Homo sapiens: one gene and its partners. The protein of the gene in region 3 interacts with the protein of the main gene of each other region in a biochemical or structural test. Each region holds a gene or a part of one and is shown on either strand. Other genes may lie near its edges. The genes, in order: HERC5, CD82, NLRP3 and MARK4.

Region 1 (7,025 bases), on a different chromosome or scaffold from region 3:
CTTTGTTTTGCTTCAACTCTTATAACCTATTCTCTCCTGATTTTAAACAAGGTTCCAGAGATAATTTCGTAGAAGTAATATTTGACTACTCCTTTTTCTGCTAAAAGCATAGACTTTTTTTTTCTTTTTTTTTTTTTTTGAGAGAGAGTCTCCCTCTGTTGCCCAGACTGGAGTGCAGTGGCATGATCTTGGCTCACTGCAACCTCCACTTCCTGGGTTCAAGCGATTCTCCTGACTCAGCCTCCCGAGTAGCTGGGATTACAGGTGCCCGCCGCCACACCCAGCTAATTTTTGTATTTTTAGCAGAGACAGGGTTTCACCATGTTGGCCAGGCTGGTCTCAAACTCCTGACCTCAAGTGATCCGCCCGCCTCAGCCTCCCAAACTGCTGGGATTAACAGGCGTGAGCCACCGTGCCTGGCCCTGAACCATAGACTTTAATGACCTAAAATTGCCATTTGGTTTCAGAATGGACATTCTGTCTGTCTGTCTGTCTCTCCCACTCTCTCTCCCTGCTTGTCTCTCTTCAATTAACTTCTTAGGTAAATTCTCCCTTAAAATCTCTTGTCTTGGTTTTTTTTTTCCTGGAGTAGGCTCTTTGGTGACATCTCTCATAACCTGGATTTTTTTTCCTGCAGCCTGTTTGCTTTCTAAACATCTGAACTTCTCTTCGGAATGAGAGAGCATCATGTTGCAGTGCACTGTTTCAGTGGATACCAATACATCTCTTAGCCTGTTAATAAGTAGCTTTGGTATCTTAAGCATTAATAATTGTGTGTATAGGAGAAAGTGGTCCTTTAAAACCTGCAGTTGGTAACTTACTTGCTCATCCAGCTTGGCTCCACAAAGGCTTTGATTCTTCAGGTCCCTTGTTTCCTCTGCTCACTGAGACTAAATACTGATGTTATCATTTATCTTCAGTGGTGCATATAAGGTTCTTTTCATAAATGTGACCTGCACTTATAAGCAGAACCAGTTTATTCTGCTTTCCAAATTTTTACTTAGAGAGGGCCAATGGTAAAATGAAGTGTAATATTTCTGTTTCTGTTTTCCTAGAGTAAAAAACATAAAGCTTATCTTAGGTCGGCAGCAATTGAGGAAGAAAGAGAGTCTGAATTCGCTTTGAGGCCCACGTTTGATCTAACAGTCAGAAGGAATCACTTGATTGAGGATGTTTTGAATCAGCTAAGTCAATTTGAGAATGAAGACCTGAGGAAAGAGTTATGGGTAAGGTGTAATTCTCACTTAATGTTTTTGCTGCTGAGAAAAGAAAAACATAAAAGAATGTGGCAAAGGGTTTCATAGAGAGGAAGTTATCTTCCTTTGCCACAGAGGTTGTTTATTTTAGGGTTCCTCTGATTCCCTAGTTGCCTTTGAGTTTTGGGTGATAGCTGTGGGCACTCACTCAGTATGTTTGGGCTAAGGAGCAGCAGGCAAAGTGGTTGTTCTCCCCACACCCTGCTCAGGTAGATAGTTCAGTGTTGGCCCTAAGAGGTCCAGTCCCTTCTGAGGTCTGGCCTAGCCTGGCTAGCACCACCCTTGAAGGGTTTCAATGAGATGGTTAGCATAGAGGAGAATTAAGGGGTTGTTTTTGTTCTTATGCAATAACCTAAATTGGGACAGGCATGGTGACTCACACCTGTAATCCCGGCGCTTTGGGATGCTGAAGCAGGTGGATCACCTGAGGTCAGGAGTTCGAGACCAGCCTGGTCAACATGGTAAAACCCTGTCTCTACTAAAAATACAAAAATGAACCGTGTGTGGTGGTGGGTGCCTGTAATCCCAGCTACTCGGGAGGGTGAAACATGAGAATCACTTGAACCCAGGAAGCAGAGGTTGCAATGAGCCGAGATCATGCCACTGCATTCCGGCCTGGGTGACGGAGCGAGACTCTGTCTCAAAAAAAACAAAAATAATAACCTAAATTGCTTTGTAGAAAAGAGAATTTTCTCTTTAAATCCTACAGTTATTTTGGGGTATAATTGTAGATTTGACCATGTTCGGAAGATCTTTAACTGATTTTTTGTTTAATTACCATATAATTTGTCTTATTAGTAAATATTTGATACTGAATCATAATGACCAGTAGATCTTTTGAGTGCTGTCCTTGTGGCAAGAACTGTTTTAAGTGCCTTATACCTAATTTTTTAACCCTTTCAACAACATTATGTGGCAGATTCTGTTTTTCCCTCATTTTACAGATGGGGAAACTGAGGTACAGAACTATTAGGTAACTTATCCAAGAGTAACCCAACTGATAAGCATCAGAGGATTTGGGCCTGGCCATTAAGCACTAGACTTTCTGCTTAATGAAGACGGATAAAGATTGGCCTGATAATATTTAGTAAATGGAGTATTTTTTATTGGGGACCTTAGTTTATCACTTCTCCTACTCAGATTAAAGAAAGATTGACTTTACCAAGTCTCAAGATACCAATTTAAAAGCATATTGCCCCAGACACAGTGGCTCATGCCTGTAATCCTAGCACTTTAGGAGACTGAGGTGGGCAGATCACCTGAGGTCAGGAGTTCGAAACCAACCTGACCAGCATGGTGAAACCCCATCTCTACTAAAAATACAAAAATTAGTTGGGTGTGGTGGCGGGCGCCTGTAATCCCAGCTGCTTGGGAGGCTGAGGCAGTGAGAATCTCTTGAACCCAGGAGGTGGAGGTTGCAGTGAGCCAAGATTACCCCACTGCACTCTAGCCTGGGCGACAGAGCAAGATTCTGTCTCAAGGAAAAAAATATATATATTGCAGTTAGAGTTGGTATTTCCATGTATTTTTGCACACAGATAATTGTATAACTCTAATGGACTCGTTATGTGATTCTATGCTTTGCCAGTCAGTCTACTCGATTATTTGAGTTCCACTTTTATATATTGTTCATTCAGTTTTTAAATTCAGGTAACACTCAGCATTTACCATTTGCAGGCTCTGTGTGAGGCATTTTACATGTATGACCCCTGTAATCTTTCTGATAATCTTGTGGGAAAACTGAGGTTTTATGAGGTTGGGCAGCTTGTCCTTAGTAAGAAGAGGGGGAAGGGTTTGACACCTGGTCTTGCTACAAAGATTTTTAGTATTTCACTATTTCACCAAGAGGAATGGAAGAGGCAGCATCTAAATAAATAAACTGGTAAGAGGAGATTTCTGGGGATGCTAGTATAACATCTGGGTAGAAATGTTGAACAGGCCGTTGGAAGTGACTGTCAATCAGGAGAGAAAATGCACTGAATCTGAAGGTTAAATACGTATGGGTGGTAAACAAAGTTTAAGGAGAAAATGAGCATCCAGGGAAAGAACAGAGAGAAAGGACAGAAGTGTTAGGATAGAACTGTCTGCAATTCTGTTTCTAGAAATTAAGCCAGCAGGAAAAAGAAGAGATAAATAAAACCGTGAAGAGTGCTTCATAGGAGAAAGCAAGGGAGAAGATTGTGTCAAGGAAAAGGACATGATCAGAAGTGGAAAATGAGTTAACGAAATCAAGGAGATGAGATATGAGAAAAAGTCCTTGGAGCTTGGGGATTTACAGTTCTTGTTCTTCTTGGAGAGACCCATTTAAGTGGAGAAGTGGGTTTGGAAGTTGGCGTATATCTCTGAAGTTTGGCAAGAGTGGAAGGAGCCCGTGTTTGTATTGGAGACAATGTGTTGGGATTTTTTTTTTCCTTTTAAGGTTAAGGGGGACCTTAACATGTTTGTGAATGGAAGTGAAGGATTCCAGGAAAAGGCAGGAATGGAGGGGTGACTGAAGGAGCAAAGATGGGTTATGATAGCATCCTCTTGGGAGGGATTGGTGTCAGCAGTAGGGGTGCAGCCTCCTCGGGGAGCAAACAGCCACTTCAGCAAACACCTTATGTGTGCTCTGGTTTTTTGAATATCCTGATTTTTATTATTTATTTATTTATTTTTGAGACAGAGTCTCACTCTGTTGCCCAGGCTGGAGAGCAGTGGTGCGACCTTGGCTCATGGCAACCTTCATCTCCCGGGTTCAAGTGAGTCTCCTGCCTCAGCCTCCTGAGTAGCTGGGATTACAGGTATGCATCACCACACCCAGCTAATTTTTGTATTTTTAGTAGAGACGGGGTTTCACCATGTTGGCCAGACTGGTCACGAACTCCTGACCTCACATGATCCGCCCACCTCGGCCTCCCAAAGTGCTGGCATTACAGGTGTGAGCCACCACGCCCGGCCAATTTTTATGATTTCTTTCTGTTTATTTTTATTATACTTGGATCTGGTGACTATAATAGTGATGCCAGTTGAGGTCAATTTAGGTAAAACTTTTACCTAAAGTGGTAAAAACTTTAGGCTCTGGGGTTTGACTGATAAAGGATTAAATTTAGGCTGTAGGCCGGGTGTGGTGGCTCATGGCTGTAATCTCAGCGCTTTGGGAGGCTGAGGTGGGTGGATCACTTGAGGTCAGGAGTTCAAGAGCAGCCTGGCCAACACAGTGAAACCCCGTCTCTACTTAAAATACAAAAAAATTAGCCAGGCGTGGTGGTGCATATCTGTAATCCCAGCTACTCTGGGGGCTGAGGCAGGAGAATCGCTTAAACCCAGGAGGCGGAGGTTGCAGTGAGCCGAGATCAGACCACTGCACTCCAGCCTAGACAACAGAGTGAGACTCCATCTCAAAAAACAAAACAAAACAAAAAAACTAGGCTGCACCACCTGACTATTGTATAAACTTGGAAAAGTTATTTAAATTCTCAAGGCCTCGTTATCTCATAGAATTAATGTAGAGATTAAATATGATAATATAAGTAGGATACTTACCTCAGTGCCTTCCAAATACTTGGGTCCACAATTAATGTTAGCTATTTACTATTATTAAATGAGACTTCATATATAGCAATATAGAGCCCTGGAAGTGATGTATTATTTGCTCTGTTTCCTCAGGTTTCATTTAGTGGAGAAATTGGGTATGACCTCGGAGGAGTCAAGAAAGAGTTCTTCTACTGTCTGTTTGCAGAGATGATCCAGCCGGAATATGGGATGTTCATGTATCCTGAAGGGGCTTCCTGCATGTGGTTTCCTGTCAAGGTAAGTTCCCTCTTCTTTGCTTAAGGTATTTTGCGACAGAAAAAGTACACCATATACCATAGAAAATTAGTTTGTCTAGACTATTTCATGTTAGAAGAGGAGTATTGATATAATTATGGAGATAATGTATAATTCTAATAAGGTGATTATTTTCTTTAAAATGGAGTTTCCTTTTCCTGGGTTCCCATGTCTGTTCACATCGAACTCAAGCAATATATTTTTTGATCATTTATATAATGCATGGATTAAAAAGGAACCCTCTCTTTTTTAGGTACTCATTCTTTGTGTCAGTTCTGTTTTCCTAATGAATTTGAAGACAAAGGCTGTGGAAAGAAATTGTGAAAACTAGTTTATAAGGATTACTGAACCTAATGTATTTTTATTGCTGGTATGCTTTTAGGAACCAAAACTGTGGCAGGGATTTATTTGGTTTTTTATTTGTTTGTTTGTTTTGTTTTGCTTTATTTTTGAGACAGAATCTCACTCTGTCACCCAGGCTGGAGTACAGTGCCATGATCTTAACTCACTGCAACCTCCGCCTCCCAAGCTCAAGCCATTCTCTTGCCTCAGCCTGGCGGGATTACAATAACTGGGATTACAGGCTCCTGCCAACACACCTGGGTAGTTTTTGTATTTTTTGTAGAGATGGGGTTTCACCAGTTTGGCCAGGCTGGTCTCAAACTCCTGACCTCAGGTTATCTGTCCACCTTGACCTCCCAAAGTTCTGGGATTACAAGCGTGAGAGTGGCAGGGATTTAAATTGACTTAATGACCAAATATTAGGTTGGTGCAAAAGTAATTGCAGGTTTTGCCTTTACTTTTAATGGCAAAACCTGCAATTACTTTTGCACCAACCTAATATAAACCCTAAACATTCTTATCTCAGGCTTTAAATTTTTCAATTTGAGATTTGATTTTATGAAAGAGAAACAAAGATTTATTTAATATAAATATTTCATTGTACTGGTAAAAACTCATAATACTTTAAGATTTTTTTTTCGCTTTTCAGCCTAAATTTGAGAAGAAAAGATACTTCTTTTTTGGGGTTCTATGTGGACTTTCCCTGTTCAATTGCAATGTTGCCAACCTTCCTTTCCCACTGGCACTGTTTAAGAAACTTTTGGACCAAATGCCATCATTGGAAGACTTGAAAGAACTCAGTCCTGATTTGGGAAAGTAAGTAAACAGAGTTCCTGAGAAAGGACCCTTTCTAACATATATTTAGGCAAATATTTAAGTACACACGCTTCATAATATTTCCATGTTCAACAGCAGCATTTTAGGTACTTTAGACCAGTTTTAACTTTGACAAGAATTGTTGGATGATAATTTCGTTTTCTAAAATTAGGAAGTGTTGATTATTCCCATAACTAGACTTCAATGTTTGCATTAATCTTTCAACTTTTTCTGTGTAGGAACAGTCATGCACAGAGCACAGGTTACACCTTGGTGCAAAATCTGCTAGTGATATTTATGTTAAATGTTGTTTCATGTCATCACCTTTAAAATGGAAACTTATTTCTAAGTTAAAAGACAAGCCACCACCTCACCAAAAAATGGCAACAGTAAAAGGGTTTTCATATCCCTGCTGTGTAAAGCATTCCTACACATCCGTAAGAAATATTCACAAAGTATCCAAGAAGGCAACCTGGCAAAGAAGCAATAGAAATGCTTCCTAAATAAAAATGTCTTCAATCTCACCAGTGCTCATAGAATGCATATTAACGTGAGAGGCTAATTTATACTTCAAGTTGACAGTGGTTTGAAGTGTTGATGCTATATAGTATTAGCAAGGGCTTGAAAACTTTCATTTTAATTTCAGGTATTATTCGTGGAAATATAAATTGGTACTCCTTTTCAGAGAACAGTGTGGCAGGACTTAGCAAAATCAAAACATATTTGCCTTTTCAACTCAACAATTCTACTTCTAGACATTTAACTTTCAGAAATACACAACCATGCAAGGATCAGTGTATAGTA
Region 2 (7,025 bases), on a different chromosome or scaffold from region 3:
CAGATCAAGGTCTGGTCATGTCTCTGCTGCTTTCTATCTATGTGATCTTGGGAAGTTGCTCCAACTCTGAGCCTCATTTTTCTCTTCTGAGAAATGGGGAGGAGGGAGACAGGGAAGACAGGGCTGGCTTCCTCGGCATTCAACCTATGCAGTCACACAGGATAATCTGCTGTTGCTGTATTGAAATTCTTTTTTTTTTCTTTTCTTTTTGAGATAGAGTCTTGCTCTGTTGCCCAGGCTGGAGTGCAGTGGGATGATCTCGGCCCACTGCAACCTCCACTTTCTGGGCTCAGGTGATCCTCCTGCCTCAGCCTCCCAAGTAGCTGGGACTACAGGCACACACCACCAGGCCCAGCTAATTTTTGTGTTTTTAGTAGAGATGGGGTTTCACCATGTTGGCCAGACTGAACTCGAACTCCTGACCTCAAGTGATCTGCCCATTTCGGCCTCCCAAAGTGTTGGGATTACACGTGTGAGCCACCACGCCCAGCTGAAATTCTTAATAATTTTTAAACAAGGGGCCCTGCATTTTTGCTTTGCACTAGGTGTAAATTATGCAGCTGGCCCTGGGCAGGACTCTTTATGGCATGTGACAGTGACTCAACTGAAAGTAGCCAGAGCCAGCAGAAGGCTCAGCTGGATCCCAAAGGCTGCTGCTGTCCCTATTCACCCTTCAGCCCTACCCTCCTCTGTTGGCTCCCTTCTCGGGCAGGCTGTCCCCAGTGGAGCCTGAGGGTAGCCCAGGTCCTCATCCTACCACATTGATGGAAAGAGGGCCGGGTATGTGAGCATGGGTCTCAAGCCCATCTCTGAACCACTCGCCGTGCCTGTGATGTGGATGGCACTGAGTGGCAGCCCAGGTCTTTTGCCTGCTTCTGGCATCGAGGGAGTGGGGCCTCCTCAGCTCCATGGAGAAATAGAAGGGTGGTTACATCCAAGGAGTGGGTTTCTGCAGGGCAGGCAGAAACAATGGAGCGGTCCCTGGGGGGATGGAGGGAGCTCATGAATGTCTTCTCCTGCTACCTCCCTGTCCTTTTTGTCTCAGTAGCTACCTGGTTGCCAGGGTGACCTCCCTGCACTCCCAGCACAGGCCTCCTGAGCATCAGCTCCAAGCTGAACCAGCCCCTGTGGCCATGGTCCCCGTGGCCCAGGTGTGTCCCTCAACCACATTCTGGACTGAAAGATGTTGTGGTGTTTCCATGGAAACCACCCATCTAGGTGGAAACCACCCAGCTTCCATCACCTTCTCATTTCAGGGAGGCTGGGAGAGAAACAGGGAAGTCCAGGCTGCTGTGACAACCACGCTGGGGTTTAAACAGAGCCTCAGTGCAACATGTTGTGAGGAAGCTGGGTGGGTGGGGAAGGATGTGGGAGAGGCAGCTTTCCGCACAGATGCTTCTAGAGAGCCCCTCCTTTCCACACCGTGGGGATCACCCACCCACTGGGGTTGAGAGGTGGACCCGAGATGTCAGATCACCTGGCAGACAGCCCCAGCTATGTGACTCAGGCAAACCACTTAGCTTTTCTGGGCCCTGGTTAAAACTGGGTATAGCCGTGTGGTTTAAATGCCAATAAAGCTTAATAGGTAAAAACCTGGGTTCTGAAATCAGCCAAGCCTGTGTGCAAACCTCACTTCTTCCGCATGTTGGCTGTGTGACTTTGGGCAAGTTAATTAACCTCTCTGGGTTTGTTTTCTGCATCTCTATAATGAGGGAATGGGGTGAATACCTAGGCCATAGGTCTGCTGTGAAGATTCAGTTGAGATAATACATTTAAAGTGCTTACCACAGCACCAGGTACATAACAAACATTTGATAAAAGTTAGCCACTATTAGTGTTGGGATTAATTACTGACAGGAAAGCTTTGTAAATTGCAGAACTCTGTATAAGGGCTTTTTTTTTTTTTTTTTAAATATCATGCTGAGAGCTTTATTGAGAGAAGGGCAGGGAGCGTCATCAGAGGCTGGTTTCCCAGCATTAATTTTTTTTTTTTTTTTTTTTTTTTTTTGAGATGGAGTCTGGCTCTGTCGCCCAGGCTGGAGTGCAGTGGCGTGATCTCGGCTCACTGCAACCTCCACCTCTCGGGTTCAAGCGATTCTTCTGTCTCAGTCTCGCGAGTAGCTGGGACTACAGGCACCTGCCATTCACACCCAGCTAATTTTTGGTATTTTTTTTTAGTAGAGATGGAGTTTCACCATGTTAGCCAGGATGGTCTCGATCTCCTGAGCTCGTAATCTGCCCACCTTGGCCTCCCAAAGTGCTGGAATTACATACGTGAGCCACCATGGCCAGCCCCAGCATTAATTTAACCAAGGGAGCTGGGTGAGGAGCCAGGGCTGCAGGTCCATCTGCAGGATATGGGTTCTCTGAGCACAGCGTTCATTCAAGGACTGCCCATGGGGAGCTGCTGGAAGCTCCACCAACAGGGTTCCCTGGGAGTCAGGCTCTGAAACCCCACCTGGAAGTACCTGTCTCATTTCTCCCAATTCTTCCTTCTCAGGAACCGAGGTGGGAAGGTGTGTGGCCTTCTCCTTGGCATCCCTGCCTTCTAGGGTCCCTCGCCCCCACTGCCTTGACCAGTCCAACCATGCATTTGCCCTGAAAGGTCTCTGGGCAAGGTCCATGTGAGAGGCTAGGTGGAGCCAGGCAGGGGCTGGCTCTCGGAGGCTCCCCTCCCACCCAGGCCTGCTTATCGCCGAGGGAGGCCCTGCCCTCAGCGGGCTCTGGGTTTGCCTCCTTTTGCACAACTGACTTATTTAGAAACCCCTTCTCTGCCTGCTTTGTAAATCAGTGTTTTCTCTGTGGGGTTAGCTGAGAGCAGGTGCTGCTCTCCACCACAAGAAGGAACCCTTAATTCCTGAGCAGGGTGAGGACCAGCATAGGCAAGATGTAGATTTGGGCCAGGCGAGGTGTCTCAGGCCTGTAATCCCAGCACATTGGGAGGCTGGGCTGGGTGGATCACTTGAGGTCAGGAGTTCGAGACCAGCCCGGGCAACATGGCGAGACCCTGTCCCTGCTAAAAATACAAAAATTAGCCGGGCATGGTGACTCATGCCTGTAGCCCCAGCTACCTGGGAGGCTGAAGTGAGAGGATTGCTTAACCCCAGGAGGCAGAAGTTGCAGTGAACTGAGATCCTGCCACTGCCCTCTAGCCTGGGTGACAGGGAGACCCTGTCTCAAAAAAACAAAACAAAGCAAAACAAAAAAAAAAAAGTGAGATGTTTTTGGAGCTCTGGGGCAAGTAGCCAGGTCCCAGAAAGGCAACTGACCTCACACTCCGGCTGGCTGGCACTGCTGGCTTGGGGCTTGGGAAGGGGTGAGGGAGGATCTTTTCTGTTTTGTTTTTTGTTGTTGTTGTTTTTGTTGTTGTTTTTGTTTTTTGTTTTTTGAGATGGACTCTTACTCTGTCGCCCAGGCTGGAGTGCAGTGGTGCGATCTCGACTCACTGTAACCTCCATCTCCTGGGTTCAAGCAATTCTCCTGCCTCAGCCTCCTGAGTAGCTGGGATTACGGGCACCCACCACCATGACTACATAGAGGGAGGATCTTTTGACCATATAGTTGATACCGAAGTTCCAGGTCCCTCAGTCTTGGGGCCCCCTCCAGGCATCTACCCTGCTGTCTTGGGGGCCCTGTTTGGAGAGGCTGCACTCTGGTCCTTGGAAGAAGGAAACTGAGCTGGGCTTTCCTCCCTGTCCCTCCTTCTCCCTGAAGCTGCCCTGTGGGAGGTGTAAGGATTCACCAAGAAGTTGCATGGGTCTGGCTCTGGTGCCTGGCAGACCATGGTGGTTAGGTGTGCATTCAGCATTCACGTACCCCACACAACTATTCTGTGCCAGGCTTGGCGCTAGCCACGGGGGACCCTGTAGTGAGCGTGCCAGATGTGGTCCCTGCCCCCACGGAGCTGATGTGCTAGTGGAGAGAGATGATAAGCCCTGAAAACCAACAAGCATGTAACGTCAGTGCTCTAAAGAGAAATACAGCATGCTTTCCCTTGTGGGATAAGGGAGGCCGGGGAGGGGTGGTTGATTGGTTGGGGGAGAGGGGATGGGGAAGGGCTGATATTTTGTAGAGTGGTCTGGTAAGGCCTTTCTGAGGAGGTGACATTGGAGCAGAGCCCTGAAGGAAGCAGAGGGTGAGCCATGTTAATGTCTAGGGGAAGAGCATTCCAGGCGGTGGGAACAGCAGGTGCAAAGGCCCCAAGGCAGGAGTGTGCCTGGCACAAAGACAGCACAGAAATCTAGTCAGTTGAAGCAGAGGGAGGAAGAACAGAGGACAGAAGGCCTGGGGAGGCAGACAAGTGGTGTAGGACCTCCTAGGCTGTTATGGGGACAATGACGGTGGGAACTGCCCTGGAGGTGGGAGGCCCCTACGGGGTTTTCAGCAGTGACATGAGAATATTGATGTTTACAGGGCCAGGCTGCTGCCAAGCGCAGAAGAGATAGTGGGGCAGGAGTGGTTGGCACTGCCTGCATCGGGCACCCTGGGAGCGCCAGGAAAGTGGCTGGAGCCATGAGCGTGTCCCAGGGTTGCTGAGGGGAACGGGGGGAGGCAGTTTAAGTAGGGGTGACCACAGGTGGGCACGGGTTTCAGGAAATCTGACCCTGACCTTTGTCCTCCCCCCTGCAGCTGAAGCAGGAGATGGGCGGCATCGTGACTGAGCTCATTCGAGACTACAACAGCAGTCGCGAGGACAGCCTGCAGGATGCCTGGGACTACGTGCAGGCTCAGGTGAGGTGGGGCGGGGCTGCAGGAGGCTCTCTGGCCTGGGTGTCCCTGCATTTGGGGCTCTGTGCACCCACATGTCTGGGACTGGCATCTGCAGTGCTCGTGTGTGCCTGACAGTTTGTAGGAGAGTGTGCTTCTATGGGGGCAGGGCACCCCAGTTAGCACCACAACTCCCTGCTCAGGGGGCCCAGAGACTCAGAGGCAGCTTCACAGCTCTGTGCTCCCATTTGTGGCCAGAGAGCATGGGGGCAGTTGTCAGCCCTCTTATCTCAAGCTACACTGGGGAGCGTTGGGAGCTCCACTCTGGGTTTTAGGAAACTGGGAGCCAAGGCTGATATGCTGAGAAGTCCCAGTGAAGGCTGCCTCTGGGGAAGGGCACTAGCTGGGGAGGTGTTGGGGAGCCTTCTAGGGCAAAAGGAGTATTTTAGCCAAATCTTGATACTGGTTTCGCCAGTATGTGCACATACGTAAAAATGCACCAAGCTGAATGTGTGCCCATTAGTTCATGTGTATTATACCTCCATTAAAGTGAGAGAGATGGATGGATGGATGGGTGGACAGATGGACGGACGGACTGACCGACTGACCAACAGATAGACTGACCAGGTTCCCAGCCTGTCTCAATAGTGATCCAATGACCACCTGGCTCTCCTTTCTTGTGGTCCCGGATGCTGCATGTGCCCTTGGCTGGGACCTGACATCTCTGATCTGCAATCCTGTGAGGGCGCAGGACACAGTGGTCACTTAGGGCCTGTTGACACCTCAGGGGAGGGATGTGGAGTACAAAGGGCATGGGCAGCAGGAGAAAGCCTGACTCAGCGGCACCAGGAGAGTTTGCAGAGAGGACACTCCATCTAGGTGACATGGACATGGCCATTTTCTCAGTGGAGGAAGGGGAGAGCGATGTTTTCTGGCCCTGACCGAGGAGATCAGGTGTGGGGGTTGTGGCAGCTGGAAGGCTTGGTGCACACAAGGAAATGTTTTGGTCGCATATGTAGTTTGACCCACAATTGCTGAGACTTTGCTAATTTTAGCAAAGTCTGGATGTCACCAGTGACATAAACCAGTGCCACCTGACAAGGGACCTGGGAGGAGAAGTGGGTCCCTTGGGAGGTGGTAAGCATCCTACCCTGGAAAGTCATTGGCTGGTTCTAGATGATTCTGATGCTGTCAGATGCTGCTTAGGCCGGTGGTAAGTCAGACTCCCAAGGCCTGGAGTGCTAACACTGCCACAGCCGCTAGACCTTTGCTGAGCCTGCTTCCTCATCTATACAATGGGGCTACTGACCCATGCCGTGTGAGATACATTGTTAAAGCCTGAAGCACTTAGGCAGCATTTATTATGTGGTATGTTGGTGGTGATGTTTTAGTCACCATGCACATCCATGGAGACACAGGCGGAGGTGGCGTGTGCTGCTGGGGACCAGGTACAGCCGGAGTCAGGCCAAGGGGTTGCTTGGAAGGAGGCTCTGTCGTAGACGGGCCAAGGAGACCTGCCTCATTTTGCTCTGGTGTAGGATGGCCTGTGGGTGCCCCCAGCCTTGCAGACCTGTGCACCCCTCAGAGGTGCCAGCCTTTTCTTGGAGAGAGGAGGCAGCCCGGCTGCTGGAACAAGCACCTGTAAACCTGGATTAGAAACTGCCTGGAGCTGAGCATTTCTGAGTGTGCCTGGCACGCCCCCTGCTGGCCACTGGCTACTGGTCAGGCGACACCCCTCGGAGCTAGGAAGGAAGCGGTCCAGGAACTGACCCCTGCTGTGACCGTGGCTATCCCATTGAATCCTCCCAGGAACCCCCAGCATTGCGGGGATTCACACACAGAGACCTCCTTTAGCACACAGAGCCCGGAAAGGCTTTCTTCTCTCTAGAACTAGAGCATTTTCTCCTTTAAAATGGCAGAATTGACCAGCTAGCCAAGGTGGCTCACACCTGTAATCCCAGCACTTTGGGAGGCCGAGGCGGGCGGATCACTTGAGGTCAGGAGGTCAAGACCAGCCTGGCCAACATGGTGAAACCCCGTCTCTACTAAAAATACAAACATTAGCCGGGCGTGATGGCGAGTGCCTGTAATCCCAGCTACTCAGGAGGCTGAAGCAGGAGAATCGTTTGAACCCTGGAGGTGGAGGTTGCAGTGAGCCAAGATCACGCTGCTGCACTCCAGCCTGGGTGACTGAGCAAGACTCTGTCTCAGAAAAAAAAAAAAAAAAAAAAAAGGCGGAATTGACCCCGTCTCCTTTTTCACTTTTCACTTTTTTTCCTTTTCACCAGGAAGCTCAGAGGCAAATCTCAACTCCTGCA
Region 3 (7,025 bases):
TTGGGTCCTCATCTCTGGCTGCATATTGTGTACTGCCTGTCTCAATACTGCTCAAGGGTCACACATGCTGAGCATTTGCAACATTGGTTTAATTATCATACCCCACCTTCCACCCCCGTTCTCTGACCTGCTCCTGCCCTCTTCCTCCTGCCTCATTGAATAGTGGGGCTTTCCAGGAGGCTGCTGAGTGAGTAAACGGGGGACGGTCCTAAATGCTCTGCTTTCGGTTCCCTCTACCACTCATCACTACACCAGAGGGAACTTTTTAAGATGCAAATTTGAAAATATTGACCCTTTGTTCAAAAATCTTCAAAAGTTCTTCTCTGCAGTCAGAGTGACATCTTAGCTTGGCACACAAGGCTGTCCCTGATACTGCCCTCTCTCCTGCCATACCTTGCACTCCATTTTGAGTCATATTGGATGAGTTTTGTTTTGCTGTTTTAGAGATGGGGACTTGCTATGATGCTCAGGCTGAATTTGAATTCCTGGGTTCATCTACAGCCATACCACCCAGAGTGCCTGATCTCATCTGCACTCCTGGGCTCAAGCAATCCTCCCGTCTCAGCCGCCCAAGTAGCTGGGACTATAGGTGGACATCACTGTGCCCAGCTATGAATTAGTTTTGAAACATCTTGGTGGTTCTTTTAATCTTCCTTATTCTTGCTACTCTTTTCCTTTTGCCTGGAAGGTTACCCCCACTTTCCCACTTTCTACTATCCATCTAAGAAGCTCCTACTTATTTTTTAATTACTGTGATCCTCATTTTGTCCATTTAAAAGCAGGGATAAAACTAACATTCCCATCTTGAGGTTGTGATCATTCAATGAGATAACCCTGTTTAAAGTCGTCATCCATGTCAAGCACACAATAAATACTCAAAAAATGTTTGATCTTCTTCTTCAGATTCCTTCCTTCCTTCCTTCCTTCTTCCTCCTCCTCCTTTCTTTCTCTCTTTTTCTTTTTCTCTTTCTTTCTTTCTTTCTCTCTCTCTCTCTTTCTTTCTTTCTCTTTCTCCCTTCCCTTCCCCTCCCCCCCCCCTTTCCCTTTCCCCTTTCCTTTCCTTATTTTCCTTTCTTTTCTTTTCTTTTTTTAAGACAGGGTTTTGCTCTGTGGCTCAGACTGGAGTGCAGTGGTAGGATCATAGCTCACTGTAGCCTTGAACTCTCCTGGGCTCAAGCAATCTTCCTGCCTCAGCCTTCTGACTAGCTAGGACTACAGGTGTGTACTACCATGCCTGGGTAATGTTTAAAATGTTTAAAATTTTTTATGTAGAGACAGGGTCTTGCTATGTTGCCCAGGCTGGTCTCAAACTCCTGGCCTCAAGTGGTCCTCCCACCTTGGCCTCCCAAAGCACTGGGATTCAGTTTTCATTATGAGACAGTTTTGTGACATAGGCAGGTAGTTAATAAATAAAAATCCCCAACCAATTAACTTAATACAGTACATGGCAAGATATCCGTGCTTGGTAAATGTAGAGCTCAGTTAGGTGGATTGGTTGAAATCGAGATGTCAATCACATTCCTCTAATCCAAGGATTGGTTGGTGGGACATGGTTGTTTGATTCTTTAAACATTTTATTATGTGTTCAGTGTAACCGTTGCTTAATAGTTACCAGCATTTTCACAATTTGGATATGACGTTTTCTTAACAAAACTGCACCGTCTGTTGCAATTTCTACTACTACTGTGTAGTGCTCCCCAAACATCTGTTGAATAATCCATTCTACTCCTTTTTGGAAATAGTGGTAAAGCCTGCATAACTTTAATTACATAATTTAAAAAATATTTTCTCTTTTCCTCTTTGAAGACCATCCCCATTCTACTAGAATGTCCCTGGCCTTTGCCAGGAATGCTACTAATCCCTTCTGCATGTTAATTAACAACAACCCTCTGATAGAATTCTTACCGGGGATGAGAGCTTAGTAGAAGCCACTCAAAACTTGCTTTGTTTTTGTCTGTCTCTCTTGGGCTTCATTTGCCTATTAGTCTTACTTACTGTGTCTTTTCAGTTTGACTCTTCCTTAATTGGGAAGATAGAAACCAGTGGATGGATAATCACTTTTTCCTGCTGGTCATCTGTTCATGCTTTACTGTCTGAATACACTTTTTCTGTATTTCTATTTTTCCTGCCTCGTAGACACCAAAGAGCTTAAAAAACATGCCATTGCCAAGGACTCTGGCAGGAAGGAGGCAATCACCTGCGCTATTCCTGGCTTCATGGAATAGAAGCATCTGTGCTCCTAGGAATTACGCCACCAGTGATTTTAGAGCTCTTATGCTCTTCCTGGGTGATAGAATGGGCTTAATTTGACTCAAGAATAGTACATCAAAACTCTTAATTCCATCGAGATTGATGCATTTTTGGGGTTTTATGCTCTAAAAGGCCTTTTGCTGTGCAGAAGGAAGAGAGAGGTGGACAGAAAGGGCAGTGGGGAGAAGATGAGACTAAAAGGTGGAAAGTCCAGGTCTGGATCCCTCCCCACCACACACCTGCTCTGTGGCCTTGAGAGAAACATGTAATTTTTATAAGCCTTAGATTTCTAATATGTAAAATGTATGTAATAGTTTTAGCTGCACTCCTTCCTTGCCAGGTTGATATAATAATCAAATAAGACTGGTCTCTGGGTCAGGCACAGTGGCTCATGCCTGTAATCCCAGCACTTTGGGAGGCCAAGGTGGGTGGATTGTCTGAGCCCAGGAGTTTAAGACTGCAGTGAGCTGTGCACTTGGCCTGGGTGACTGAGCAAGAGCCTGGCTTTTTCTATTTATTTATTTATTTTTGAGACAGAGTCTCACTTTGTTGCCCAGGTTGAAGTGCAGTGGCAATCTCGGCTCACTGCAACCTCTGCCTCCCAGGTTCAAGCAATTCTCCTGCCTCAGCCTCCCAAGTAGCTGGGATTACAGGTGCCCACCACCACCCTAACTAATTTTTATATTTTTAGTAGAGATGGGCTTTCACCATGTTGGCCAGGCTGGTTTTGAACTCCTGACCTCGTGATCCACCCTCCCAAAGTGCTGGACCTCCCAAAGTGCTGGGATTACAGGCATAAGCCACTGCACCTGGCCTTATTTATTTATTTATTTAGGCAGGGTCTCACTCTGTCACCCAGGCTAGAGTGTGGCAGCGCAATCATGGCTCACTGCAGCCTCGACTTCCTGGACTCAAGCGATCCTCCCACCTCTCCAACGTGGTTGAGGGCTGCAGCGAGAAAGATGTGAAAGGGGCATTTGGGGGCGCAGGAAGGCGGGAGGTGGCAATTGCTAAGGGCCCCGCCGTGTTCCTGTCACAGCCCTAGCTACAGCTTAGAAGGTCACAATGGACGTTCACCTGTTGTCTTTGATGTTTAAATCAGCACCGACTTCCCATGAGGAGGATTTTTTTTTCCTGTCTCTCTTAAAAAAAAAAAAAAAGGCCCCTGCAGTGTGGGTGTCTGCAGTGTTACGGGGATTATTAGTTGAGGATAACCACTGGGATGTGTTTCTGGAAGAAGTGGTGCTGAGGAGCACTCCTGGCCGGAGGAAAGCTGTGTGAGGAGGAGGAGGAGTATGGGGTAACTGGCTCAGTTTGCCTTGGCTCTTTCTGTCGGACTCATACAGCAAAGCATCTGCTGAGACATCATTTGTGTCTCCTGTGACAGCCAGAGACAGCAGGTCTTGCTCTCCCCAGATCATATCTGAGATGCTGGCTCCTGCTCTCTGAGCTGAAGGCTGCAGCTGCTGAGAGAGGACGAGGCACTGAGTCAAAGCAGCTGCACAATGTTGGGGAACAGCTGGGTACTGAGGACTCTTCTCCCTGTCCTTCTACAGGTTGGTGAATTCTGGCCTTACGTCAGTCTGTTGTTCAGCTTTGTCCTCGGTACTCAGCACTAATCAGAATCTCACGCACCTTTACCTGCGAGGCAACACTCTCGGAGACAAGGGGATCAAACTACTCTGTGAGGGACTCTTGCACCCCGACTGCAAGCTTCAGGTGTTGGAGTAAGTCCTTTGGTTTATTACAGCAATGAGAACACATGGTGGCCAAGGGTGGAGGGACGTTTAGGCAGAGTGGCCACAAGATAATCTGTATCTTAGAAGTGAGGTGTCTTCTTAGTGTTTGCCTTGTTACAGGATCATGGGACTGGGAGGAGTCCTTCCAGATGATATAGATGTAGGAACTTGAGTCCTTACCATCACAGTTTTCTGTACCACAAAACAAGGAGGGCAGTATGACACTTACATTTTATGGAAATGTAGGGAAAGGCACAGAATTTGGTAAATCAATGAACAAACCACTGTTACTAATTTGATCTGTGCAATGCAGTGGATTTGAAAAAGAGAGAGAAGAATAATTACCAGCATACAAGGCTGCTTGAAGCTAGTTAGTCCTGTGCTCCTGTGCTTTTTTTTTTTCCACCTGAAACAAGACAGGCTAAGATGCTAAAATCTTGGGGAGCTAGGGGGATGGTTAAGGGGACATTTTCTTTAAATCACCCCCTTTTTGCAGATTAGACAACTGCAACCTCACGTCACACTGCTGCTGGGATCTTTCCACACTTCTGACCTCCAGCCAGAGCCTGCGAAAGCTGAGCCTGGGCAACAATGACCTGGGCGACCTGGGGGTCATGATGTTCTGTGAAGTGCTGAAACAGCAGAGCTGCCTCCTGCAGAACCTGGGGTGAGTGTGCTCTGCAGAGATGCCCGTGGTGGGACTCTGAGTTCTCAGGAAACGTTGACTGTTATCAAAATCCAGGATGGCTCTCGCTTCATTTGCAGCCACTCAAGATTAGGTTGGGCCTGGGTCAGTTGTGGTGGATATTTTAAAATAGAGAATATGGGGTTAAACTACACATTCCACTTCACTGAGATGGTTAGAATCACCAAGGCTAAGCTGGATTTCACCCACATTCCCCAAAGAAACACAAGCCCTCATGCGATCATGGCCAAGGAGGATTCTGTTCTACACAAGGAACCGAACTTCGTAGAACTCGTCTATGGGTCATCCAAATTGGAAGGGTCTTTACATAGTGGGGATCTTGTTGTTTTGTTTCTGAGGATTTATTTTTTTTTTCCTTGAGACAGAGTCTTGCTCTGTCGCCCAGGCTGGAGTGCAGTGGCATGATCTCGGCTCACTGCAAGCTCCGCCTCCCGGGTTCACGCCATTCTCCTGCCTCGGCCTCCCAAGTAGCTGGGACCACAGGCGCCTGCCACCACACCCGGCTAATTTTTTGTATTTTTAGTAGAGTTGGGGTTTCACTGTGTTAGCCAGGATGGTCTCCATCTCCTGACCTCGTGATCTGCCTGCCTCGGCCTCCCCAAGTGCTGGGATTACAGGTGTGAGCCTCCGTGCCTGGCGGTTTCTGAGGATTTCTAAATGGGAAAAGAGTGCTCCAGGAATAGCAAGATGGGAAATTACACGAAATTCGACAGTGTGTCAGGATATTGCCAGCCCACCTCTGTGATACTACTGAGGTAGTCGTCTCCTCTCTAGCAAGAGCTTCCTGGCGAGTCCCACGGTTCTGTCAGCCGTGATGATTGCACTTTTCCCTGAAGACGTTTTCACTGCTTGGCTTTAAGGCCAACATGCTCTCCTGGGTTTTCTCCTATTTCATCAGATCCTTCTACTCAGTCTCCTTTCTGGCCTCTTCTTCATCATCCTGACCCTTATGTGTTGAATCCTCAGAGCTTAGTCGCTGGGCTAATTTTTCTTCCCTACACTTTCTCCCTCATTTAAATTATCTGGTCTTCTGGCTTCATGATATGTGTGCTGTGGCCTCCAGATTATATGTCCATAAATTCTGTGTCTCCGTGCTTGGCTGATCTTTCTTCTTGAAGGTTTAATAAACCTCTCAAACGTCACATCTAGATCCACACCCTTGCTACTCTCTTCTACCCGAAACCTGATTCTTCCCCATTTCAGTCGATGGTCACTTCCTCCAAGTTGCTCGGGCCAAAACATTTCTGGTTCTGTCGTCACTGTCTCTTTTTCCTTATAATCATGTCCAATGTGTCAGCACATCCTGTGAGCTCTGCCTTCCCAGCTTGGCCACTCCCTGACCACTTCAGGCCAGCTTCACGGCTTCTTCCTTGGCTCAAGCCACCATCACCTGGTGTCTGGATTGTCATGGTGGCATTCTGACAGGTCACCCTGCATCTGTTATTCTGATTTTAGCAGACAAGGGATTCAGCTAAAACGTAACTCGCATCATATCACTCTTGTCAACATCGTCTTCTTATCACTTTCATAATCAGAGCAACAAACTCATGGTGGCTTCCATGCCCCACATAATCCAGCCTCTCCTGCTTCCGAAGATTCCGCTTCTCCCAACCCTTGCTTATTCTGCCCCAGTACAGTGATCTCCTTGCTGTTTTGCAAGAACACTGTCATCTCTGGATTTTTGCACTTGCTTTTCTTCTGGCCTAGAACTCTCTCCCCTTCAGTATCCACCTGCATTATTCCCTGTACCTTCCTAAATTCTCTGCTTAAAGGTCTTCTCTGCGAGGCTGTCTTTGACTATTCTACTGAAAATAGAAGCACTTTTTCTTCTCTTCTCATTCTCCTCTGCAGTGTAGCACATCTTATGTGCTATGTCATTTTCTTGTTTATTTATTATCTATCTCTGCTCCCAAAATATAAATTCCATTAGTCCAGGGACTTCTGTCCATATTAATGATCTCAAGGCTGAGAACTTGTTGGAATGCAGGTTTGAATAAATACAAGTTTGAATCAGCCTTGCATCCTTGTGCCAACATAATGGAGCACATTTGCTGCAGGACAAGCCAATATTCCCAGAGCTAAGAGAGATGGGGGAACAAACAAAGGATTGGTCAGGTCAAAGCTGGGGACACTGCTACATGTAGCATCACTGACCTAGCCCTGAGGGACATTCTGGACCCAGGCTGAGGGACAGGCTCAAAATAGATTGAAGAATCCATGAATGCAATCAACCCGTTTTCTCAGGCTGCGATAACAAGCTGCTTTAGACTGTGTGACTCAAACACAGATTTATTATCTCACAATACTGGAGGCTAGAAAGTCCAAAATCA
Region 4 (7,165 bases), on a different chromosome or scaffold from region 3:
AGACGGAAGAAATCGATTGAACCCAGGAGGCAGAGGTTGCGGTGAGCCGAGATTGTGCCACTGCACTCTCCGGCCTGTGAGACAGAGTGAGACTCCATCTCAAATAAACAAACAAACAAATAAATAAATAAGATAAACTGTGTTCAAGTGCTCAGGCACAGCCTGAGGGGGATGCGTGATCACTGGCCTAGGCAAAGTCCAGGCTGGGATCAGGGTTGGGGTCAACATTAGGATCGGGGGCTGGGCTTAGGGATCACAGCTCCCTCCTGGATCCAAGGGTTAAGATTCAAAGGTCTGAATGCCCCAGTTGAAGGAATGAATTCACCAGACATAGGTTGTGGAGGAAGGGCTAGCTGGATGACCAGGTCGGGAGGCAGAGGAACAGGCCTTGCCCCCCAGCTCGGCCTCTGCACCGCGGACCCATGGTCAGCAGTGGCCCATCATGTACTGGGATCGTGCAGGATTTCCACCCCGCCTTATTTATTTATTTATTTATTTATTTATTTAGAGACGGAGTCTTGCTCTGTCGCCAGGCTGGAGTGCAGTGGCGTGATCTCTGCTCACTGCAACCTCCGCCTCCTGGGTTCAAGCAATTCTTCTGCCTCAGCCTCCCGAGTAGCTGGGACGCAGGCGCTTGCCACCTGCAAGCGCCCGGCTAATTTTTTGTATTTTTTTTAGTAGAGACAGGTTTTCACTGTGTTAGCCAGGATGATCTCGATCTCCTGACCTCGTGATCTGCCCGCCTCGGCCTCCCAAAGGGCTGGGATTACAGGCGTGAGCCACCGTGCCCGTCCCCCTCCTTTTTAAAAATTATTTTTTTTATTTTGATTTAGAGACAGGGTCTCACTATGTTGCCCAGGCTGGTCTCGAACTCCTGGGCTCAAGTGATCCTCCCGTTCTGGCCTCCCAAAGTACGGGGATTACAGGTGTGAGTCACCGCGTCCAGCCCCCTTTTTAAATTTTATTATTATTTTTTATTGAAATACAATTCACATACATAAGAGTCACCCTTTTCAAACAGAGTCCGGTAGGTTTTAGTATATTCACAAGGTTGCAGCAAGCGTCACCACTATTTAATTCCAGAACATTCTCATCACCCCAAAAAGAAACCTGGTACCCATCAGCAGTCATTTCTCATTCCCCAGCCTCCAACCCCTGGCAACCATTAATCTACTTTCTGTCTATGGATTTGCCAATTCTGAATATTTCATATGAATGGAAGCATACAGTAAGTGGTCTTTTGCGTCTGACTTCTTTCGCTAAACATGCTGTTTTCTTTTTTTCTTTTTTGAGACGGATTCTCACTCTGCCGCCCAGGCTGGAGTGCAGTGGCGCGATCTCAGCTCACTGCCAGCTCCGCTTCCCGGGTTCACGCCATTCTCCTGCCTCAGCCTCCTGAGTAGCTGGGACTACAGGCGCCCGCCACCGCGCCCGGCTAATTTTTTGTATTTTTAGTAGAGACGGGGTTTCACCGTGGTCTCGATCTCCTGACCTCGTGATCCGCCCGCCTCGGCCTCCCAAAGTGCTGGGATTACAGGCGTGAGCCACCGCGCCCGGCCACATGCTGTTTTCAAGGTTCATCCACTTTGCAGCCTCCCTCTCTGTAAGCCTCGGTCCCCCCACATCTGGGAAATGGGGTGGGGACGCTGTTGGGGAAGGGAGGGCAGGGGTGGACCCTGGAGTGTGTGGGGCGCGTGTAGGGAGGTGATCGGCTGCCCCCGTGTGGTGCACGGTAGAACTGCAGCTCTCAGCGCCAATGCAGGGAACGGGTTGGGGGCGCTCAGCCCCTCTAGCCTACCCCCAAGACCCCCACTTTCACCCTGCGGCGTCCCTGGGATCACAGTACGTCTAGAACACTACCCCGGAACTCCACCCTCTCTGCCACTGTCCCTGAGGCTCCTCGGGCCATATTTGCCAAATAGTAATAATAATGTCCCCACATATGAATTTTGAATCTGGTCCCCTGTGAAGCACTTTACTCAAAGATTCTCATTTATTTGTTAGCAGTAACATTAAAATAACAAATAAATATAAACAAATTGACAAATAAAAATAGTAGCAGCCTGAGGTTGCTGCTATTATTTTTCGGAGACAGGAAACCACAGTGGTTGAGAGAGGGTCCAAGTTCTGGAACTTGGGAGCACTTGGATTCAAATTGTAGCCCTGCCACTAATTTGCCGTGTGACCTTCAGCGTGTGACGTTTCTCCCTTCCTTGGGCCTCTGTTTCCTCATCTGCAAATGGGATTGATAAAGATGCTCCCTACCTCTTGGGGTGGCAGAAAGGAGAAACTGCTCAGAGCCTGGCACAAGGGCAACTGCCATGAGTCTGTGTTGCTCATAGTATCAAGCAGTGCTGTGCTTTCACAACCAGCTTTTGGCTGAGTGCAGGGTAGTCCCAGCACTTTAGGAGGCCGAAGTGGGAGGATCGCCTGAGCCTGAGAGTTGGAGATCAGCCTGGGCAATATGGCTACAAAAAATTAGCTGGGCGTGGTGGTGCACACCTGTAGTCCCAGTGACTTGGTGGGGCTGAGCTGGGAGGATTGCTTGAGCCGGGGATGTCCAGGCTGCGGTGAGCCATAATCGTGCCACTGCACTCTAGCCTGGGTAATGCAGTGAGACCCTGTCTCAAAAACAAAACAAAGCAAAGCAAAACAAAACACCCCCAGCTCTCTGCAGGTGGGGGTGTGGAGCCTTAATTTGTAGCATTTGCCAATTTCCATGGTGTAAATATTCCCACCATGGCTAATTTCAAGCTACCAAGGTGATATCACATGGCATTTTTGCCCCCCATTATATAGTAATTTTACTGTGCAGCTACAATAGACGTAGGTAACCTCAAGATCACAGATAATGGCAAATGTAGTAAGATAACTAGGACGTGATGAGTATGTATTACTTGTACCTTTAATGTAATTTAATTGTATGTTTGCATAATTTAATTTTTAATAATGGCTGTGTTTAACAACCAGTTCCAAAATTCCTGAGACATAACAATCAGCTCGCTCCAGCCAGATCCAGCACACTGCTGTTTTAGAAGGGGAAACTGAGGCTCAGGAAAATAAGCCTCAGATAGAAGAAGGCAGGGCACAGACCCCTTCCCAAAACCATGTGACTCCCAGGCCAAGACTATGTAATGCCTGTCTTTCTTTCATCCCACCCTGGTCCACAGAGCATGGATGGTCCCCACAGCGCTGTGTGGCCTCCGAGAGGCTCTTGTCCTCTCTGGTCTCAGCCTGCCCGCATGGGGAGTGGCTGTGCCCTGCAGGCGAATACCTGCACAGGGTTCCTTCGCACCTGCCAGTGAGCAACACACGGATTCTTCCTTTCACTTTACAAACTGGGAAAGTGAAGCCCAGAAAGGGCAAGTGCTTGCCCCGGGTCATACAGGTGGACAGAGAGGGTCCCCACACCCCAGCTGGGGTGCAAAGGAGTGGATGCTGCAGCCCCAACCTGCGGGTCTGGATCTATGTGGCTGAGTGGAGGCAGCCTGACTAGGGAGGTCACTGAGCCCTCAGCAGTGGCCAAGCCCCGCACACCATCCCCTTCACCCACCCCACCCTTAGGCCTCCGAGGGGAGAGCTTCCCCCGCTCCCCCCCGCCAACTGGGGAGAGAATGGGCCAGGGGGAGGGACAATGTGGGCAGCGCCTCTGGGGTCTTCTCTGGCTCAGTCCCTTTATCTCTATCTCTTCACAGATCTCTGCGTCTCTGTATCTCTTTGTCTCTCCCTGTGTGTGTGTGGGGTCTCTCTCAGTCTTTGTCCCTCTGCGTCTCTGGGTCTCTCTGTCTCTGTCTCCCTGCGTCTCTCTCTCTCTGTCATCTGGCTCTTCCTTCATCTCCTTGCGCCTCTCCACCCTTTTGTAACTCGTCTCTCTCTCTTCGTGTCTCTCTATCTCTACGTCTCTCGATCTCTCTCTCTGCGTCTCTGGCGCTCTGCCCCGGCCTCTCTCTCCCCTTCTCTCCTCTCCAGTGCGCCTCTCGTCTCGGGCGAGAACACGCTCCCCGCCGGCGTGCCCAGACCCGCCTCCGCCCCCGGAGCCCCCGGAGCCCCCGGCGCCCCGACCAGCCCGGGCCTGCGCCTTTAAGGGCCGGCGGCGGGGGGCGGGGTCCCGGCGCCCCGCCCTGCCCGCCCCTCCCCCTGACGTCCCTTCCTCCCTCCCCAGCCCCTCCACCGCCTCCCTCCGCCGCCGCTTGGGCCGGCTCCGCGCCCCCTCCGCGGCCCCCGCCCGCCCGCCTGCCCGCCGCCCCCATGGCGCCCGGGGTCCCCGCTGCACGGGGCCACTAGGACCCTCGGCGTCCCTTCCCCTCCCCCGCCCTGCCCCCTCTCCCGCCGCGCGGACCCGGGCGTTCTCGGCGCCCAGCTTTTGAGCTCGCGTCCCCAGGCCGGCGGGGGGGGAGGGGAAGAGAGGGGACCCTGGGACCCCCGCCCCCCCCACCCGGCCGCCCCTGCCCCCCGGGACCCGGAGAAGATGTCTTCGCGGACGGTGCTGGCCCCGGGCAACGATCGGAACTCGGACACGGTGAGTGGGGCCCGGCCCCTTGGGGAGCCCTGGCTGGGTCCAGCCGCCAAACCCTTCTCCCCGTTGTACCCCTCGCCCCGCGAGCCCCTACCCTCGTTTCCTGGGCCCGACCCGGCTCGTCACCTCTCGACCCCTCCCGGACTTCCAGGCCTCTCCACCCTCCCCACCTTTTCCAGCCCAGCCCGACCCCTGGGGGCGCCCCTCTCTCGGGACCCCTCTCTTGTCCCCGTGCAGACCGCTTCCGCTCGGGTCTGTTCCCTCCAGGAAGCCCCTTCCCCTGCTTCCAGGAGCCCCTCCCTTCTCTTGCCTGTGCTAAGCCGTTTCCCCTCCAGGCCGTCCGCGTCCGACACCTCGCCCCCTCCCGGATTTGCAGGGCCCCTGACCCCCCAAGGCCCGGCCCTGGCACTCTCAGCAGGGCCTGGCCCAGTCCTGCCTCTGGCTCCGGCCTTCCCTGTCTGGGGCTGGGTGCCGGCTCCCCAGGAGCCCCCCTCCTCTTATTCCCAGCCCTCTGCCCCTCCAGGACGCACCCAGGGCGCCTGTGGGCAGCCCCTGGCAGGAAGCTGGTTTCCACCTCTCCTGGGCCCCGGCCCTTTTCTGGCTTCTTCAAGGTCTCTCCCGTCCCAGGCCTGGTCCCCATCTTCCAAGCAGCCCTGTCCCTAGATCCCAGCACCCCGGGGCCCCCAGATGCCACCTGGACCCTTTCTGGTCTCTTCCTCTCCCAGGAAGCCTTGGCCTCCAACTTCTAGGCCCTCACCTCACCCAGGCTGGTATTTCTAGGCCCTGGACCAGTCTGACTCCAGGCCTCATCCGCCCTCTATCAACTTCTCAGCTTCAGGCAGCCCCTTCCCCAACCCCCAACCTCTGGACCCCCTGCTAGGCCAAACTCAGACCCCTTCCCCACAAACCACCGTCCTTTCTCCTGCCCCAGGGCCTCCCCCTTCCTTGCTGGGAGTCTGGCCTTCCAAGGAAGCCCCCTCCTCAGCTTCAGAGGCCTTCCTCAGCTACAGGGCCTGGCCCCAGATCCTTCTTCCAGAAAACTCCTGGACCTGAAGCCTCTCGTCTTGCCCTGGTTTCAAGCCCTTTTCCCTTGGGTCAATCTGCTGGAAGCTTTCTCCCCAAATTTCTAGACCCCTTGACCTTCCCCAGGGCTCAGCCTTTATTCATCTGGGCTGCTCCTTGCCCAAGAAGTTCCTACCCCATACTTCCAGGCCCCCCAGACCCTTCTCTGGTTTCAAGGACTTCTCCTAGAAGCCCCCTTCTCTGATTCCTAGGAGCTTCCCCAAGACCCAGGGATTCCTGGCCTCTGACTTCCACTGCCCCCATGGCTTTGTCACTTTCCACCATTCCCAGGCGCCCCCTGCCCCTACACTGCTTCCCAGAGAGGCCCCTCCCCATCTCCTGTGTCTCTGATCACTGATCACTTCCAAAGACCTGCCCACCACCCAATCCTAGACTTCTCCCCACCTGGGATCTTTGTGGCTTTCTCCAAATCCTTCTGCCAGGTCCCTGTTCCCCTTCCCCCTGTTTCCCTCACCTCCGACAGACCCCCCCACACACACACACCATCAGAGAGATTTATATCTGTCCCTTCCTCATCTTGCAGATCCCTCCCTCACAGAGACCACCCCGCATCATCACTATGGGCCAGAACTCCAATTTGGAGTCTAATGAAATGCCTACCACCTCTGTTCCTTGGTCACTACAATCTACAGTGAGGTGCCAGGGGCTCCACAGTCCTGGGTTCCAATGCTGACATGGCCAGCTGGTTTGCCTTGTGTCCTCAGACAACCAGTTCTCCCTTTCTGAGCCTCAGTTTCCTGCCCTGGAAAATAGGGGTGACCGCTTGAGTGCCTCCAAGGCTTACTCGATTCAGGCGAAGGCTGGCACCTAGGAAGCACTCCACAAATGCCAGCTGCTATTGTGGCTGTGGGTATGAGTCAGACAGCCCGTGGATTCTCAGCTCAGGGCTGTTATTGGTTGTTGAGTGAGCCTGCAGATTCACTCCCAGCTTGCAGCCTCAGTTTCCTTATCTCTAAATCGGGTTGATGATGGCCCCCCACTGTTAGGGATGTTTGCAGGAGCCAGCGACGTGATGTGACTAAGGTGCACAGGGCCTGGCATGTGTCGTGGCTGTTGTGGTTATTAGCACTACTTTAATTGTTCAGATAAACTTGGGTTCACATCCTGTTTCTGTCCCTCCCTAGCTGTGTGACCTCGGGCAAGTAACCTTACCTCTCTGAGCCTTGGTTTCCTTGTCTGTTAAGTGGAACGCCTAATGAAGACTTGCTGTTCCCTGGGTTGTTAAGATGCGTGCATGGTGCGGATTTGAGGATGGCTAATCCCCTTTTCTCTCCTCCAACTCTTGTCACTAAGACCTGCCTGTCAGTCCTGGTGGGGAGTCACTTGCCTGCCTCTGGAATGGGAGGTTGCAGCCCCCTCTCCTGTTACCTGGTTACCATGGCTACAGCCACGTGGGGTCATGCTCCCCCACCCCAAGTTCCAGGGCCCCCCACCAGGGGGCCAGCCTCCCCAGGTTCCCTAGCAACAGTCCCGGGTGTTGGGGCGCCAGCCGGGCGGGAGGGAGCCAGGCCAGCTGGTGGTGCAGGCCAATTTTAGCTCCCACCCCCGGCCCCCAGGGGCTTTGTC

What was found.
Region 1: the proteins of NLRP3 (region 3) and HERC5 form a complex in vitro, tested with the Homo sapiens proteins (one study listed by BioGRID).
Region 2: the proteins of NLRP3 (region 3) and CD82 form a complex in vitro, tested with the Homo sapiens proteins (one study listed by BioGRID).
Region 4: the proteins of NLRP3 (region 3) and MARK4 form a complex in vitro, tested with the Homo sapiens proteins (one study listed by BioGRID).

The regions. Positions count from the first base shown.
Region 1 is NC_000004.12:88,488,111-88,495,135, forward strand, and holds part of HERC5 (E3 ISG15--protein ligase HERC5), read left to right. Parts: intron 1-1,055; coding exon 1,056-1,226; intron 1,227-4,901; coding exon 4,902-5,045; intron 5,046-6,054; coding exon 6,055-6,221; intron 6,222-7,025.
Region 2 is NC_000011.10:44,610,643-44,617,667, forward strand, and holds part of CD82 (CD82 antigen), read left to right. Parts: intron 1-4,629; coding exon 4,630-4,731; intron 4,732-7,025. UniProt on the Homo sapiens protein: Structural component of specialized membrane microdomains known as tetraspanin-enriched microdomains (TERMs), which act as platforms for receptor clustering and signaling.
Region 3 is NC_000001.11:247,440,166-247,447,190, forward strand, and holds part of NLRP3 (NACHT, LRR and PYD domains-containing protein 3), read left to right. Parts: intron 1-3,806; coding exon 3,807-3,977; intron 3,978-4,485; coding exon 4,486-4,656; intron 4,657-7,025. UniProt on the Homo sapiens protein: Sensor component of the NLRP3 inflammasome, which mediates inflammasome activation in response to defects in membrane integrity, leading to secretion of inflammatory cytokines IL1B and IL18 and pyroptosis.
Region 4 is NC_000019.10:45,247,121-45,254,285, forward strand, and holds the start of MARK4 (MAP/microtubule affinity-regulating kinase 4), read left to right. Parts: upstream 1-4,150; 5' UTR 4,151-4,468; coding exon 4,469-4,519; intron 4,520-7,165. UniProt on the Homo sapiens protein: Serine/threonine-protein kinase. Phosphorylates the microtubule-associated protein MAPT/TAU. Also phosphorylates the microtubule-associated proteins MAP2 and MAP4.